2 separate regions of the Homo sapiens genome follow, and region 1 is linked to region 2. The links come from fine-mapping of genetic effects on gene expression. A gene starts in region 2. The other region holds a variant in brackets. All regions are shown on one strand. Distances are between the middles of the regions. Region 1 holds the start of BCAR4 (breast cancer anti-estrogen resistance 4). Region 2 holds the start of GSPT1 (G1 to S phase transition 1).

Evidence for each region. PIP is the estimated chance that this variant, and not a neighbour inherited with it, causes the effect. A credible set is the group of variants that fine-mapping cannot tell apart.
Region 1: its variant is the best candidate, but not a certain one, in a credible set for the expression of GSPT1 in monocytes after Pam3CSK4 (Quach 2016, PIP 0.63).

The regions. Positions count from the first base shown.
Region 1 is chr16:11,823,320-11,832,573 of GRCh38, reverse strand. It overlaps BCAR4 (breast cancer anti-estrogen resistance 4), which reads left to right and starts at 3,742. Exons shown (of 3, transcript NR_131222.1): 1 at 3,742-3,875. The variant G/TG (reference allele first, on the strand shown) is at 4,509.
Region 2 is chr16:11,912,042-11,921,295 of GRCh38, reverse strand. It overlaps GSPT1 (G1 to S phase transition 1), which reads left to right and starts at 5,340. Exons shown (of 15, transcript NM_002094.4): 1 at 5,340-5,927. The coding sequence starts at 5,576. RefSeq lists enhancers at 3,400-3,900, 5,201-5,350, 4,959-5,896 and silencers at 4,951-5,010, 5,721-5,790, 5,881-6,120, 6,161-6,210.

The DNA of each region.
Region 1 (9,254 bases), 89 kb after region 2:
TCAGCCTCCCATAGTGCTGGGATTACAGGCGTGAGCCACAACATCTGACCAGTTGCTACACTTTTAAACTTAGATTGTGCATTTTGGGGGACGTGGTGATGGAAATAATGGGAAGGCTGGCAAATCTCCTACAAGCCGCCCCTTTTCTACTGAATGGAGCAATGGGCCTCAGAAACAGAAATGAAAGAACGTGGCTGGAAGTGGTGGCTGACGCCTGTAATCCCAATATTTAGGGAGGCAGAGGTGGGGAGATGAGGAGTTCGAGACCAGCCTGGCCAACATGGCGAAACCCCATGTCTACTGAAAACACAAGAATTAGCCAGGCCTGGTTGTGCACGCCTGTAGTCCCAGCTACTCAGGAGGCTGAGGCAGGAGAATCGCTTGTGTCTGGGAGGCGGAGGTTGCAGTGAGCCAAGATCGCACCACTGAACGGCAGCCTGGACAACACAGCAAGACTCCATCTCAAAAAAAAAAAAAATGATAAAATGTAACTAACTGTACCCAGCAAAACAAGGACCATTCAAGCAGACCTTAAGAGCTCCTGCTGGGCATGGTGGCTTATGCCTGTAATCCCCACACTTCGGGAACTCGAGGCAGGAAGATCACTTGAGCACAAAAGTTTGGGAACAGCCTAGGCAACATAGCCGGCCCTTGTCTCTACAAATAACTAAAATACTGGCCGGGTGATCAGTCACAGTGGGTCACCCCTGTACTCCCAGCACTTTGAGAGGCCAAGGTGGGCAGATCACTTGAGGTCAGGAGTTCGAGATCAGCCTGACTAATATGGTGAAACCCCATCTCTACTAAAAATACAAAAATTTGCCAGGCATAGTGGTGTGTGCCTGTAATCCCAGCTACTTGAGAGGCTGACGCAGGAGAATCGCTTGAACCCAGAAGGCAGAGGTTGCAGTGAGCCGAGATCGCGCCACTGCACTCCAGCCTGGGCTGGGCGACAGAGTGAGACTCCGTCTCAAAAAAAAAAAAAAAAAAAGAAAAGAAAAAAAAAAGAAAGGATCACATTGTATTTCAGTCTCCTTGAAAATACGAAAATGAGGGTACCAAGAAGTTGCTAAGTGTCATCCTATTCGTAACACCTGGCCAAAAAACCCTTGCTCTATTTTCCATATATGGGTGTTTAAGAGCAAAGAATTCTTGCCATTTAGTTAAATATTTGAAAGTTCTGCACTCCCTACATTTTTTTTTCTGAAATTGTTACGATTTTTCTTGCCTACAGATAGTATTAATATTCAAATACCAAGATTCCCAATTTGGACTTTATGAGCCACGAGAAACCTTCATCAATCCTTGGATCCTAAGGAAATTAGTGCAACTGATCGAAGACCATGAATAAAATTTTGGTTATAGGGATCATTTCAGTATAGTGGTCCTGGAGAGAAAAAATGGCAAATTATTTAGGTGGCTCTACTTAACCCCAGATTATAACACTGCAGTCCAGCACTTAAAATGATTAGTATCGGCTGGGCGCGGTGGCTCACACCTGTAATCCCAGCACTTTGGGAGGCCAAGGCAGGTGGATCACGAGGTCAGGAGTTCGAGACCATCGTGGCCAATATGGTGAAACCCCATAAAAACACAAAAATTAGCCAGGTGTGGTGGCACGCGCCTGTTGTCCCAGCTACTCAGGAGGCTGAGGCAGAAGAATTGCTTGAACACAGGAGGCGGAGGTTGCAGTGAGCCGAGATCGTGCCACTGCACTCCAGCCTGGGTGACAGAGCCAGACTCCATCTGAAAAAAAAAAAGGAAAGAAAAATAAATAAAAGATTAGTATCACCTGCTTATATAACTCAGCTGGGTCATTTTCTTTTTTCTTTTTCTATTTTTTTTTTTTTGAGACGGAGTCTTGCTCTTGTCAACCATGCTGGAGTACAATGGTGAGATCTCAGCTCACTGCAACCTCCGCCTCCTGGGTTCAAGCAATTCTCATGCCTCAGCCTCCTGAGTAGCTGGGATTATAGGTGCACACTACCACGCCCGGCTAATTTTTATATTTTTAGTAGAGACGGGGTTTCACCATGTTGGCCAGGCTTGTCTAGAACTCCTGACCTCAGGCGATCCGCCTGCCTCAGCCTCCCACAGTGCTGGGATTACAGGCGTAAACCACCACACCTGACCAGTTGCTATGCTTTTAAACTTAGGTTGTGCATTTTGGGGGATGTGGTGATGGAAATCATGGGAAGGTTGGCAAATCCTCTCCAAGCCACCCCTTTTCTACTGAATGGAGCAATGGACCTCAGAAACAGAAATGAAAGAAAGTGGCTGGACGTGGTGGCTGACGCCTGTAATGCCAGTACTTAGGGAGGCAGAAGTGGGGAGATCACCTGAGGTCAGGAGTTCGAGACTCAGCCTGATTAGCCGGGCGTGGTGGCTCACGCCTGTAATCCCAGCACTTTGGGAGGCCAAGGCAGGCAAATCAACTGACGTCAGGAGTTCGCGACCAGCCTGACCAACACGGAGAAACCCTGTCTCTACTAAAAATACAAAATAAGCCGGATGTGGTGATGCATGCCTCTAATCTCAGCTACTTGGGAGGCTGAGGCAGGAGAATTGCTTGAACCTGGGAGGCGGAGGTTGCGGTGAGCCAAGATCACGCCATTGCACTCCATCTCGGGCAACAAGAGCGAAACTCTGTCTCAAAAAAAAAAAAAAAAAAATTAGCTGGGCGTGGTGGTGCACACTTGTAGCCCCAGCTATTTTGGGAGCCTGAGACGAGAATCGCTTGAACCCAGGAGGCGGAGGTTGCAGTGAGCCGAGAAGGTGCCACTGCACTCCAGCCTGGGCGATAGAGGGAGATTCCATGTAAAAAAAAAAAAAAAAAAAAAGTATCTCATTATGTTGTCCAGTTTGAACTCCTGGCCTCTAGTGATCCTCCCACCTCAGCCTGCCAAAGTGCTGGGATTATAGGCATGAGCTACTGTGCCTGGCCAGTGCTTATTTTTTCTCTCCAAAATGGGATTAGTATCACAAAATATTTTCATGCCTTCTGCACCCTTTAGTCTGTAAATAAAACCTGTAAATAATAATAATACATATAGTTCCACTTCCAAGCATAAGCACAGTTAATATTTAATATCTTGATTTTTTTACAGTATTTTTTCCTGTGCTTATTTTTCTTTTCTTTCTTTCTTTTTTTTTTTTTTTTTGAAACAGAGTCTCGCTTGGTCGCCCAGGCTGGAGTGCAGTGGCGCGATCTCAGCTCTCAGCTCTCTGCAAGCTCCGCCTCCTGGGTTCACGCCATTCGCCTGCCTCAGCCTCCCGAGTAGCTGGGACTACAGGCGCCCACCACCATGACCGGATAATTTTTTGTATTTTTAGTAGAGCTGGGGTTTCACCGTGTTAGCCAGGATGGTCTCGATCTCCTGACCTTGTGATCCACCCGCCTCGGCCTCCCGAAGTGCTGGGATTACAGGCGTGAGCCACCGCGCCCGGCTCCTGTGCTTATTTTTCTCCCTTTGTTTCCTTCTGGTCTATATTTTCCAAGATTCCTTCAATGATATGATTTTGTAGTGAACAAATGCCAGCCCTCCTTCAACTCATCCCTCTGAAATGTCTATTATTGAGAGCATGATAAAAATATTTAAAGATTTCTGGTGGGGGCAGGTGGTATTTCTGAAAAATGCACACTCCTGGTCCTGCTGCAGACCTGCTTAACTGGAATTACTGTATACATGCGGGACTTAGGAATCTGTGTTTTGACCAAGAGGCCAGGTGATTCTTCTGCTCAGTTAGTGCTGGGAAACAGTGCTAAGAAGGATACAGTGGCTAGAAGTCGTCCTGTCGTCCTGCCTCACAGTAACATCGTTACCGAATTCTCAGCAGGTGAACCAAATGAAATGGTCAACTGAAAGCCAACCAGGGTAAAACAGATCTTTTATTTCTTGTTGTTGTTATTATTATTTTTTTTTATGTGGGGACATTCAAGTGAACTGCTATATGCATTTGCCCCCAGTCTCTCCTTGTGAGAAGTGAATTTCTTCAACGTTTATAGAACTGAGGTATTACATTATTGGATGAATTAAGAAAACAATCTAACCTGATGTGTGAAAATTTCTGCTTGTGAGAATCCGTGTTATTTCAATTATCCAATCAAGAGCCTAATTCGTATAAAAGAAACACAGCAGCTTGTTGCTCATCTTTTTATCTAAGGACGGTTTGTCTTGACAGAGGGTGTCTGGCTGTTTTGGGGAAACTATTCCTGACCTTATTTTGACTAAAAAGTTGCCTGCTGTACCAGGTGAGAGAAGCTATCATTTCTTTTATAAAACTTTTAGCTTGCTTTTTGTTAAGTGTGTTTGAAAGTCACTTAAAAGACTGACTTAAATATGAATATTGTTAGTCGGGCTGTATATTTTTTTTATATTAAGTTATGATTTATATTTCTTCAGAGATCTAGTCTCTTGTTGATCTCCCTTGACTATTTTTCTGTTAGGCTGTTGGATTTCTCTTTTTTTCTTTCTTTTTATTTTCTTTTTCTTTTTTTTTTTTTTTTT[G/TG]AGACAGGGTCTCTGTTGCTCAGGCTGAAGTGCAGTGGCATAATCTCAGCTGACTGCCTCCTGAGTAGCTGGGATTACAGGCATGTGCCACCATGCTCTGCTAATTTTTGTATTTTTATTGGAGACGGGATTTCACCATGTTGGCCAGCCTGGTTTTGAACTCTTGACCTCAAGTGATCTACCCTCCTTGGCCTCCCAAAGTGTTAGCATTACAGACGTGAGCTATTGTGCTTGGCTTTTAAAAAATTTTTAGACTTTTAGTAGAGACAGGGGTCTCACTAAGTTGCCCAGGCTGATCTCTTTTTTTTTTTTTTTTTTTTTTGAGACAGAGTCTCACTCTGTCGCCCAGGCTGGAGTGCAGTGGTAGGATCTCGGCTCACTGCAAGCTCCGCCTCCCGGGTTCACGCCATTCTCCTGCCTCAGCCTCCCGAGTAGCTGGGACTACAGGTGCCTGCCACCACGCCCAGCTAATTTTTTGTATTTTTAGTAGAGACGGGGTTTCACCCTGTTAGCCAGGATGGTCTCGATCTCCTGACCTTGTGATCCGCCCGCCTCGGCCTCCCAAAATGCGGGGGTTATAGGTGTAAGCTACTGTGCCTGGCCCTAAACTGGTTCTTGAAAAAGGTGGCAGATCAATACGCCCCTGCAAAGCAGGGGGAAAAAACAAACATTTGCTATTTAATAACCTAGGCAGGAAAGATAAGCTAAAAAAAATCAAAGAGAATTATTCCTATTTCATACCAACATTCTCTTTTTTTTTTTTTTTGAGACGGAGTCTCACTCTGTCGCCCAGGCTGGAGTGCAGTGGCGCGATCTCAGCTCACTGCAAGCTCCGCCTCCCGGGTTCACGCCATTCTCCTGCCTCAGCCTCCCGACTAGCTGGGATTACAGGCGCCCGCCACCACCCCAGGCTAATTTTTTTGTATTTTTACTAGAGACGGAGTTTCACCGTGTTAGCCAGGATGGTCTCGATCTCCTGACCTCGTGATCCGCCCGCCTCAGCCTCCCAAAGTGCTGGGATTACAGGCGTGAGCCACCGCGCCCGGCCCATACAACATTCTTAAGTCTAGATAATGGGAACTAATAAGTTCCCAAAACTGAATGAAGAGACAAAAACCTAAAAACTGGAAGAGAAAAGACAGTGAGATTTCACTTAATATTGTGGGCCAGGTGCGCTGGCTCACATCTATAGTCCTAGCACTTTGGACGGCTGATGTGGGTGGATCCCCTGAGCTCAGACCAGCCTGGGTAACGTGGCAAACCCCGTGTGTACTAAAAATACAAAAATTAGCTGGGCAAGGTGGCTTAGTCTCAGTCACTCTGGAGGCTGAGGGAGGAGGATCACTTGAGTGTGGAAGGCGGAGGTTGCAGTGGGCCGAGACCACGCCAATGCACTGCCAGCCTGGATAACAGAGCAAGCAAGATCCTATCTCGAAAAATAAAATAATATCATGCATACAAATCTTGAGTTGTTGCCATTATAATTCAAAGATTCCCAATTCATTCTGCGAAAGTAATTTTTTCGGTACTCAAACCTAGTAGTTTTCTTCGCCAGAAAAACTCCTATCACCTGGTCTTAAGATAAATGTAAGATACCACATACTGCTTAACCAGGATAATAACAGCTTAGGAGAGCTTATCTGAGGAATGTAAGGATGGCTAAACATTAGGGAATCAGAAACAAAAATTGTTAGTAAACTAAAGAACACAGCATAGTTAGCCAGAAATGCTAAGAAAATTCAGCTACAAAACTTACCAGCAATTTAGGGTTAAAACATCATATGAAATGGCAAATTAATAAAATGGTGCCATTAACGGTGAGTTCAAACCTAAAAGGCCAATATTTGTCATTGTTTTCATTAGTGTTTTTTTTGTTCCTACATACTGTAAAATTTTGTGACAAATTCTGTTCCACCTAGTATTTAACCTGACACCTAAAATGTTTAGTGTATACAGTTGCAAAGACATAATTACTTGCCATTGTGTAAATAGTGATCTTTGAAACTAAAACTATTCCATTCTCAAATACATCTGTTGGACTCTAAATACCTAAGGGAGTTGATCGTCACCATCACCCACTTAAAGAAAACACCTGGGCCACATGTGGTGGCTCACACCTGTAATCCCAGCAGTTTAGGAGGCCGAGGCAGGAGGATTGCCTGACCCTAGAAGTTTGAGACCAGCTTGGGCAACAAGGTGAAACCCCGTCTCTACAAAAACATACAAAAAAAATAAGCCATGGGTGGTGGCAGGCGCCTGTAGTCCCAGCTACGTGGGAGGCTGAGGTGGGAGGATCACTTGAGTCTGGGAGGCAGCAGTTGCAGTGAGCTGACATTGCGCCACTGCACTCCAGCCTGGGGAACAGAGCAAGACCCTGTCTCAAAAACAAAACAAAACAAAAAAACCGGTTGGGCGCGGTGGCTCACGCCTGAAATCTCAGCACTTTGGAAGGCCGAGGCGGGCAGATCACGAGGTCAAGAGATCAAGACCATCCTGGCCAACATGGTGAAACCCTGTCTCTATTAAAAATACAAAAGTTACCCAGGCGTGGTGGCACATGCCTGTAGTCCCAGCTACTCGGGAGGTTGAGGCAGGAGAATCACTTGAACCCAGGAGGTAGAGATTGCAGTGAGCTGAGATCACACCACTGCACTCCAGACTGGCGACAGAGTGAGACTCCGTCCCAAAAAAAAAGAAAAAAAGCAAGGTTTTACCATTTTTTCTCTTTGAATTTTTTTTCACTCCAGTTGTCCACATGATTTTATATTAATGTAGTATTATTTTATTTTTTTTGAGACAGAGTTTTACTCTTGTTGCCCAAGCTGGAATGCAGCGGTGTGATCTCGGCTCACTGTAACTTCTGCCTCCAGTGTTCAAGCGATTCTCCTGCCTCAGCCTCCTGAGTAGCTGGGATTACAGGCATGCGCCACCATGCCTGGCTATTTTTATTTTTGTATTTTTAGTAGAAATGGGGTTTCACCATGTTGGACAGGATGGTCTCGAACTCCTCGCCTCAGGTGATCCGCCCACCTCGGCCTCCCAAAGTGCTGGGATTACAGGCATGAGCCACCACGCCCGGCCATTAATGTATTATCTTTATGCTTAGCTTTCATTCAGTATTCATTTACTGCTTGAAAAACCTAAGACTTCATACTATGTTGGGCAGAGTTACTCTTACCACTTATCTCTTCAGGAAAGATGATTGAATAGTAGATGTTCTCAGGTTTTCACTCCGTAAATGACTTTTGCCAGTGCATTAAGAAAAACAATTGATTTGGAAGTTGGCTATTAATCCAATTAATTAGAAGCCAAGCCTTTTTCCACAGGGCCTGTGATGTGTTGATAAAATGCCACACAACCATTTCTCAGTGAAAAGCCCAACCGGGACTTGAGTTATGTTGGTGGCTATGGAGTTCTGCAATCCACAATTGATGTTCTCTAATAACCAGTGACCTTGAGTGAACTGTCCCCAAGGCAAGAGCAACCACAGCTGCGGGGAGCGTTTGGCAATCACTATCCCCACCCAAGCTTCTCCCTTGGTAAACTTTGTACCTACTGGGTCCTCATGCTGGTGGAAAAGAAAATACATTTCCTTCTCGTGACTGTCCCCTCTCCTTCAAGTCAATGTTCTTAATCTTTGACCTTGGATTTCATCACTTGTCACTTGTTTTTGTTTGCTTCTTCGGGATTTTTTTTTTTTTGAGATAGAGTCTTGCCATGTTGCCCAGGCTGGAGTGCAGTGGTGTGATCTCAGCTCACTGCAACCTCTGCCTCTGGGGTTCAAGAGATTGTCCTGCCTCAAGCCTTCTGAGTAGCTGCAACTACAGATGTGGGCCATCATGCCTGGCTAATTTTTGTTTTTGTTGTTGTTGTTGTTTGTTTTTTTGAGATGGAGTCTCACTCTGTCACCCAGGCTGGAGTGCAATGGCGTGATCTTGGCTCACTGCAACCTCCGCTTCCTGGGTTCAAGTGATTTTGCTGCCTCCGCCTCCTGAGTAGCTGGGATTACAGGTGTGCGCCACCACACCCAGCTAATTTTTATATTTTTAGTAGCGACGGGGTTTCACTATGTTGGCCAGGCTGGTCTCAAACTCCTGACCTCAAGTAATCTGCCCGCCTCAGCCTCCCAAAGGGCTGAGATGACAGGCGTGAGCCAATGCACCTGGCCTAATTTTTGTATTTTTAGTAGAGAATGGATTTCACCATGTTGGCCAAGCTGGTCTCAAACTCCTGACCTCAAGTGATCCTCCTGCCTCGGCCTCCCAAAGTGCTGGGGTTGCAAGCATGAGTCACTATGCCTGGCCTTGAATTTCATCACTTGTACCTAAAGTATAAAAACATAGATTTACCATCAAATAGTAATGGTGCTTCAGGAAGAAGTTAAGCCTACTTCAAGTACCTTTGGCCTTGTACTTCAGTTTCTTCTTCTTCTTCTGTTTTTGAGACAGAGTTTTGCTCTTGTTGCCCAAGCTGGAGTACAATGGTGCAATCTTGGCTCACCACAACCTCTGCCTCCCGGGTTCAAGCGATTCTCCTGCCTCAGCCTCCCAAGTAGCTGGGATTACAGGCATGTGCCGCCACGCCCAGCTAATTTTGTATTTTTAGTAGAAATGGGGTTTCTCAATGTTGGTCAGGCTGGTCTTGAACTCCCGACCTCAGGTGATCCACCTGTCTTGGCCTCCCAAAGTGCTGGGATTACAGGCATGAGCCACTGCACCCAGCCATTTTCTTCTTTTTATTATTTTT
Region 2 (9,254 bases):
CAGGCGTGTGCCACCACGCCCAGCTAATTTTTGTATTTTTAGTAGAGACAGGGTTTTGCCATGTTGACCAGGCTGTTCTCGAACTCCTGACCTCAGGTGATCTGCCTGCCTCGGCCTCCCAAAGTGCTGGGCATCAGCCACCGCACCCTGCCTAATGATGCAACTCTTGATGGGCTCCTAGAAGACGACTGGTCACCAGAAAGGCCAAGTCATGATTAGAAGCTTGGAACTTTTAGCCCCACATCCAACCTCTCGGTGGGCAGAGGGGCTGAAGGTTGAGTTAATCAGCAACGGGCAATGATACAATCAGTCATGGCTATGTAGGGAAGCCTCCATAGAAACCCAGAAGGACAGGGTTCAGAGAGCTTCTGGGTTGCTGAACACGTGGAGGACCCTTGAGGATGGCACACCTGGAGACAGAATAGGAACTGTATGCCCCTTCCCAGCCCTGTGCATCTCTTCCACGTGGCTGTTCCTCTGTATCCTTTGTAATGTCCTTTATGGGTAACTGTAAGTAAAGTGTTTCCTTGAGTTCTTTTTTTTGAGACGGAGTCTTGCTCTGTTGCCCAGGCTAGAGTGTGGTGGAGCACTTGGCTCACTACAACCTCTGCCTCCCATGTTCGAGCGATTCTCCTGCCTTCAGCTTCCTGAGTAGCTGGGAATACAGGCACCCACCACCACAACCGGCTAATTTTTGTATTTTTTTGGTAGAGACAGGGTTTCACCATGTTGGCCAGGCTGGTCTCAAACTCCTGACCTCAGGTGATTCGCCTGCCTCGGCCTCCCAAAGTGCTGGGATTACAGGCATGAGCCACCGTGTTTGCCCTGTTTCCTTGAGTTCTGTGAGCCACTCTGGCAAATTCCCTGAACCCATGGAGGGGGTCATGGGAACCCCCAATTCATAGCCAGTTGGTCAGAAGCACAGGTCACAATGTGGAACCTGTTATTGGCATTGGAAGTGGGGGCAGTCTTGTGGGACTGATCCCTTAACTTGTGGGATCTGTCCTAACTCTGGTTAATGTCAGAATTGAGTGAAATGATTGCTTATCCTGTTGGTGTCTGTTGAAGAATTGGTTGGTGGTGGGTAGAAACTCCCTCACTTACTGGTGGAGTACAACTGGCCCTTAAACAATGTGAGCCTGAACTGCGAGGGTCCCACTTACACATGGATTTTTTTTTTCAATCAAATGAGGATCAAAAAGACGGGATTCTCAGGATGCAGGAACTCAAGTGTAGGGAGGGCTGACCTTTCATACACACAGTATAGATTGTGGGATTTTAGTATGGTTGGATTTTTGTATCTGAAGGGCTCCTGGAACTAATCCCCTTCCTCTACCCAGAGAGGACTGTACTCTGTGTTGAGCGGTGACTTGTGTGTGAGAGTAGGAAAAACTCTGATTTTTCCTAAGTTTTCTAAATTATTAGTCCTGGGGTGGGGTGTGGTGGCTCATGCCTGTAATCCTAGCACGTTGGGAGGCTGAGGCAGGAGGATCACTTGAGGTCAGTAGTTCCAGATCAGCCTGGGCAATATGGTGAAACCCTGTCTCTACTAAAAATAGAAAAATTACCAGGGGGTTGGGGAGGGGGGGTGGCGGGCACCTATAATCCCAGCTACTCAGGAGGCTGAGGCAGGAGAATTGCTTGAACTTGGGAGGTAGAGGTTGCAGTGCGTGAAGATTGCTCCACTGCACTCCAGCCTGGGCAACAGAGCAAGACTCCATCTCAAAAAATAAAATTAAATTAAATTAAAATAGCTAAGTGCGGTGGCTCACATCTGTAATCCTAGCACTTTAGGAGCCCAAGGCAGGCAGATCACTTGAGATCAGGAGTTTGAAACCAGCCTGGCCAACAAGGTGAAACCCTGTCTCTACTAAAAAAAAATACAGGCCAGGCGTGGTGGCTCACGCCTGTAATCCCAACAGTTTGGGAGGCCAAGGAGGGCAGATCACAAGGTCAAGAAATTGAGACCATCCTGGCCAACATGGTGAAACCCCGTCTCTGTTAAAAATACAAAAATTAGCTGGGCGTGGTGGTGCACACCTGTAATCCCAGCTACTCAGGAGGCTGAGGTGGGAGAATCGCTTGAACCTGGGAGGTGGAAGTTGCAGTGAGCTGAGATCATACCACTGCACTCTAGCCTGGGCGACAGAGCGAGACTCTGTCTCAAGAGTCTCAAGTTATTTAAAAAATAAATAAATAAATAAAATTATTAGCCCTATGTGTCAGCAGTCTTAAATGAGTATCAAAGGACAGTATCATCCCAGCTAAATTGATTAAGCACCTTTTATACACCGGGCATTACACTAGGCAGTGGAAATGTAAAGAAGATTAAGGTAAGACCCTGCCCTCAAGTCGCACAACTTACACACAACTTAGCACAACTAACAAGAAAGACTTTTCCCTTTTCCGCTGGAGCTCTGTTTGGCAGGTCAAAGCTTTGGAAAACCAATGGAGTGGATTTTTTCCTGAATATCCATAATTATCCTATTCAGAGACAAGGAAATTAATGACATCAACTGCTTTTCTAAGCAGCAGTCTGAGCAGTTTCTGCCTTTGTCCCTAGAAAAAGTACCAGGCAGAAGGAAACTCTGCTAATTCAATTAGATGTGAAGAACTAACCTATGAGAAAGTGATCATTCAGTGCTGTAGGAGTGCTACATGGAGGAGAGTAGTATTCAAAGACAAAATGCTTAGAGAAGGATGTGTAGTTCATTATTTGAGTCAGCTGATTGTGTTGACATTTTCTTAGGGGTGGGTGGGTGGGGAGTGAAAATCTGGAAAGAGAAGGCATTTCATTTAGAACACATTGTATTTTTTCTTGTGAATATAAGATGAAAATCTTTTATTCAATAGCAATACAGGTCTCGCATAAATGAAGTTCTAATTTTCATAACAGTTGTTAAGTTCTCTGTAAATCTGACAGTCACTTAATACCAACTTTAAAATGGACATTGTTAAGTATGATTCAGTGAGGTCTTCAGGTATAATAATAGGCTATAACCAAAACTTCCTATTAAGCAGAGGCAAACTCTGCCGGGTGTGGTGGCTCACACCGATAAGCCCAGCACTTTGGGAAGCTGAGGCAGGTGGATCGCTTTTTTTGTTTGTTTTTTGAGACAGAGTCTCGCTTTGTCGCTCAAGCTGGAGTGCAGTGGCGCGATCTCGGCTCACTGCAGGCTCCGCCTCCTGGTTTCACGCCATTCTCCTGCCTCAGCCTCCTGAGTAGCTGGCAATACAGACGCCCGCACACCACGCCCGGCTAATTTTTTGTATTTTCAGTAGAGACAGGGTTTCACCGTGTTAGCCAGGATGGTCTCAATCTCCTGATCTCGTGATCCGCCCACCTTGGCCTCCCAAAGTGCTGGGATTACAGGCGTGAGCCACCGCGCCCGGCCTAACTTGTATTTTTAGTAGAGACGGGGGTTCCACCACGTTGGCCAGGCTGGTCTCGAACTCCTGACCTCACGTGATCCATCTGCCTCGGCCTCCCAAATTGCTGAGATTACAGGTGTGAGCCACTGCGCCTGGCCGGTATGTGTTTTTTTAATCCCTAAAGCTTGGTAGTTTAATATTAAATTCAAATTACTGTAGCCTAGGACTCTTTTGAAAAATACTTGACAGCTTCGTTTTTGACCTATCTCATTAGGCTGAGTTCTCTTTTATCTTTACAATACAGATGTTTAAAATTAAAATACAGATCGGCCGGGCGCGGTGGCTCACGCCTGTAATCCCAGCACTTTGGGAGGCCGAGACGAGCGGATCACGAGGTCAGGAGATCCAGACCATCCTGTCTAACACGGTGTAAACCTCGTCTCTAATAACAATACAAAAAAAATTAGCCGGGCGTGATGGCGGGCGCCTCTAGTCCCAGCTACTCCGGAGACTGAGGCAGGAGAATGTTGTGAACCCGGGAGGCGGGCTTGCAGCGAGCCGACATCGCGCCACTGCACTCCAGCCTGGGCTACAGAGCAAGACTCCGTCTCAAAAAAAAGAAAAAAGAAAATTAAAATACAGATCTAGATCTGGATTTTGTTAGGTTTTTTTTTTTTTTAACAACCTAAGGTTGTTCAGAAACATCTATTCTATGTATGTGCTTCTTTAGTCTGTAATTTCTAGGCAGATTAGTTGCACCCTGTCTAGACTCCTTTCAGAAAAATACTAACAATATGTTTTTCTCTGTCTTGGGCTCCACATGGGTGAATTACAGGAAAGCTTAACAGGTACTCAGAGCAACATTTTTTCCTACTTCATGAAGGGCCTAAATGCGAACTCTTAAGTATTTCTCGTTTGCTTTTGTTCTTTTCCCAGGTTTACCTAATCTGTAAGTGTAAGATGCAGTCGATGAAAAGTACTATGGGAATTCTTGAGCAAATCAGACCATTCAAAAGGAAACCACTTCACGTAATGGTGCATAAGGAAGCTAGACTCACCAAAATAACCCTGTTAGGTAAGCCGGATACACCATGGAATACGGCAATCCTCTGTTTAATTTGCAAACCCTTTGGCGGGGAGGAGGAAAGGATGGAAAAATTTGGGTGAAGGCTTTATATGACTAGTCAAACAAACGGTGAGTCATTGAAATTTTCCAGTTAACAATCCCTTCTGCCTGGGCAGAGCCTGGGCCCCAGCGCTTTATGAGCCACACTGCAGTTTTAAGCCGGAATATCTCACGGTTTTATTGTTTCTTCCACGAAATGATTACATAAAATGAAATCAGCTTTGCAATCTGCACCGGCTTTGAAATGAAGGGCAAAATCTGGCTGGGGGTGAGGAGAAAGAAGGTGGAGAGAGAATAAGGTACGGAGACTGTGAGGCAGAGAACGCAGGAAAGGTGGTGAAAAGAGAGTACAAGAATTTTCGGGAGCTGAGTGTATTTTTCTTCCCCATGTTATAGATGCTGTCCGTTTTCCCCCAGCCTGTGTCCAGCAGGCCAGAGTGGACCCCTCCTATGGGCTAAAATACTCTCGGTCTTCGGCCCAGCACAGAGCTGCACCAACCAGGGCCTGCCGCTGCCCCCCCACCAGGTGACAGGTGGGGCCGCCGAGCGGCCACCAGACCTCCGCCTCCTCGCGTTGCCTGCCGGGAGCCGGAGCCGCTTCCGGTTGCGCCCTGTCCCTGAACTTCGACTCCCGTCGGCCCCCGGGAAAACCGCAGCGGGGTAGCGCGGGCGCTGCCGGAACTTGTAGTTCCACCTCCCGCCGCGCTAAATAGCCGGAAACGGGGGCGGCCAGAACAGAGAACTACCGAGGCGAAGGTACGGGTGGCGGCGAGGGGTCAATCCGCGCCGGGGGTGGGGTTGGCTGTGAGGCCGTCGGAGGTGGTTGGGTGGGAGGAGATCCGCTCACACACACGAGGAGGAGGGTTGAGCTGCCGCCGCCGCCGCCTCTGTCGTCGTCGCGAGTGTGGAGTCGGGACTGGAGCTGCTGCCGCGGCGACGCCGGGGATCTTTGTCGCTAGCTCCCGGCCCTTCTGCCCCGCCGCCTTCCCTCAGTCAGCGTTGCCCACTCCTCTCCGGCCGGGCGCCCCTGCCTCCATTTCCCGCTCTCTGTCCACCACACACACGGCCCCCCCGATCATGGATCCGGGCAGTGGCGGCGGCGGCGGCGGCGGCGGCGGCGGCGGGAGCAGCAGCGGCAGCAGCAGCAGCGACTCGGCGCCTGACTGCTGGGACCAGGCGGACATGGAAGCCCCCGGGCCGGGCCCTTGCGGCGGCGGCGGCTCCCTGGCGGCGGCGGCCGAGGCCCAGCGGGAGAACCTCAGCGCGGCCTTCAGCCGGCAACTCAACGTCAACGCCAAGCCCTTCGTGCCCAACGTCCACGCCGCCGAGTTCGTGCCGTCCTTCCTGCGGGGCCCGGCAGCGCCGCCACCCCCAGTTGGCGGCGCCGCCAATAACCACGGAGCCGGCAGCGGCGCGGGAGGCCGTGCGGGTAAAGGCCCGGGACGCGGGAGGAAGTCCGGCCGGGCGCCGGAGCCCACATGGCGTAGGGGTGCGGTCCGGGGGCGCGCGGCCCTGGGGCCCGGTCGGCACGTGGGGCGCTGACAGTGGCGCCGTCTGCCTGGGTGGGGCGCCCCGAGCCCGGGAGCCGGCCTTCGCGGGGCGGCCCGCGGCGGTGGCCGGGCGGGGAGCGGACAGCGGGCAGCGCGCCCAAAGACCCGGACCCGAGTGCCGCCCCTCCGCGCCCCTGCCCTGCTCTGGAGTCCGCAGTTACCCACTTGAGATGGGAACCGTATGGAACGGAGTGGGGGCCGCGGCGGATCCCTGCCACGAGGCGCAGAATGAGGACAGATGGAGCCAGGAGTCATTTGGGTGGGCGTTTAGAGATCCCAGGAGTTGGGGAGGACGAATGGCCGAGTTTTCCTTTCACCTTAGGCCCAGCCGAGAGAGCGTCTTCTGCTGCGTTTTCTACTATTGAAACTGTAATTACGGTTTAAACTGTCCGTGGCCCCCAACCGTCCTGAAGGAATCCCAAGATGCATTGCAGCCTTGTGATCGGGCAGAAACTTGGCTATCAATACCAAGATCTGTTTTACCCTTAGCATTGTGTACGCTTCTAAAGTTTACAAAGTGCCACAAAGTTAGGATTCCTCACTTAATGTGTGATAGGAGACTATATTGATTTGTGTCTTTTTAAAGTGAAGCTTACACTTTTATCCTTTGTCAGCGACACGTTTAGAGAATTTTCATTGCTGTAAAATCGTTGACCTTATTCAGATTGCTTGGAATAACTCACTGTGTTCGTGCATCAGTAGTTCAGTCTATTTCTTCAGACACTTGAGCATTTGTTATAATTTAATAGTTCTCACGTGTCTTTCTGACCGTAGCTAGTAGACATACATTTTCTAATCCATAAAATTTCGAGTTAACTTTGGTTTTTAAACATCTTCCCGTACTTAGGGGTTGCTTAAGTCGTAGGTAGCATGCTTGCAGGTGCTGACGTTGTAGGAATATCCGGTGAGTGAACTTATGTATTCTCATAATGGTGCTTATTTTGTGGTAGGTAGCTTGCTTTCAGGTACTGATTTTGTGGGAATGTCAAATGAGTGAACTTAAGTATTCTCTTCCTAATGGTGCTTATTTTAGGAACTATCAGTGTTTCCTTAAAGAGAAAATGAAAAAGGAAGGAAAAGGCTGAACGTCCTTTCATCATTTAGCCAGGACGTTAGTGGGGTGGGTCATGACATCCAGCGCATTTTAAGTGAGAACATATTGTTGATTTCTCTCTTTAAAGTTCTGTATTGTGGTGGTTCTTAGATAAGTGGACATTATAAAAGTGCTCCAGGAGTTTGGTTTCTACAGAAACTTTTGTCACCGTTTGCTCTTTCGTGGTAAAGGGATAGTGTCTGGAGAAACACTCTGATGACGTATGTACGTCAGCACGGTTGATTTGGTGGTTTTGTTGACAGTGGCATTTATTTGTGTGGGTGGTTGATGTTTTCTTTTGAGGAGATCGAGCACTTTCAGGGTGGTACGGCTCTAGACAATGTTTTCCTCTTGAATAAGGAAGCTTAGCTTGTAATTCTTGACTTACATCAAGCCATTTTGACTGCCTAACCTAGTTCACTTCTCAGCTCCTAAAAGTGCCCATTCCCTACCTTACTTTGCAGATTCCGTTTATCCAGCCATTTTCTTTCTTGGCTCTTCCTCCTTTCTGTGGAGCCACCAGCACCACTCTGACTAGACTCAGGACTCCATTTACAGCCTGTCCAGCGAGTCATCCGGGGATAACCAACCTTGGTCTAGAATGGTCACTGTTGGTGACTAGGTATTACCTCTTATGCGGGCTTTCTCTCTTCCTGATAGTTGCTAATTTGTAGTTACACCTAATCTTTTTCTCTTTGACAGTGCTAGAAATTGGAGATGCGAAAACCTGTAGGGAAGTAGCTGTCAGTAAGAGAATCCGTACAGCATGGTCAACTTTCTTGTTTTTAATCAAAAAACTATTTTGGTGTTACCGACTTTACCAATTGCTTGTACCAAAATGCCAGTTCATGTTTTTAAAAAATTATCCTATGTAGGATGTCTATTTGGAAAAGAACTGATTTTCTAAGTTGAGGTCCAGGGTTATATTGAGACTGTTGGATTGCATGTTCCAGACTATTAAGTCCATAAAAAGCCAGCATCGGAGAACAATCAGTGCTTATAAAAAGCAGGGGGATAAATAGGAAATAACACCTGGATTGGAACTTACAAAGGGGGAACCAAAAAGTTTGCAAGGTTTTTTTGATAGCGAGGAAGTGGACAATAGGGCTAGCATGTTCTGTTCTTTAGTTAAGCCATAGCCGAAATTTGTGCTGGGTGTGTTTTTAAACTGCATGCCGGGAAAGCTGTTGAAGGAGCCTGGAGAGTCAGACCTTGGGATTCAGTATTGACCTTGGATCTCTTTGAAAACTAAAGAATATAGGTTCCTTAAGAAATAATTAAGTGGAACCCATTTAAGTGTAATTAAGTGTAATTCATTTAAGCACAGTTCTCTAGAGCCAAGTAAATTGGCCAAGAGATTCTCCTTAAAAAGTGAGGTCCCCAAGTGAATAAAAATATAGAAGACAAGGCTTAATGTATATTAGAACAAGCATTTTATCTGATAGGATGTATTTAAGTTGCAATTTGCACCTAGTTTTTTTTATTGTTAGATAAGAAACTGGTTTAGTAATTTTAGGGTTACTTGAACTTTTTAGAACAGCCAGAGCTTCTAAAGTAATGATGTGGTGTTCTTTGCATCATCCCACCTTTAATGCTTCTCAGAACTCACTGCCATTAAGAAACAAGCATGGAATAAAACCAGCAGCCCTCAGTACTTACTTGGAGGAGGCACTGTCTCCAAAACTTAGCAGATTGTATTGTGGAACTTGAATTTTAAAGAGAAACATTCTGTTTTGTAGTGTTCCGTATTTGCTGAATGCCTTATTTATTGGAAGAGGAGGTTTTTTTTTTGTTTTTTTTTTTTTTTGAGACGGAGTCTTGCTCTGTTGCCCAGGCTGGAGTGCAATGGCACGATCTCGGCTGACTACAACCTCCTCCTCCCAGGTTCAAGCAATTCTCCTGCCTCAGCCTCCCGAGTAGCTGGGATTACAGGCACCTGCCATCATGCCCAGCTATTTTGTGTGTGTGTGTTTTTGCAGGGATGGGGTTTCACCATGTTGGCTAGGCTGGTCTTGAACTCTTGACCTCAGGTGATCTGCCCGCCTTGGCCTCCCAAAGTGCCGGGATTACAGGTGTGACCGCGCCTGGCCTTTTTTTTTTTTTTTTTTAAATG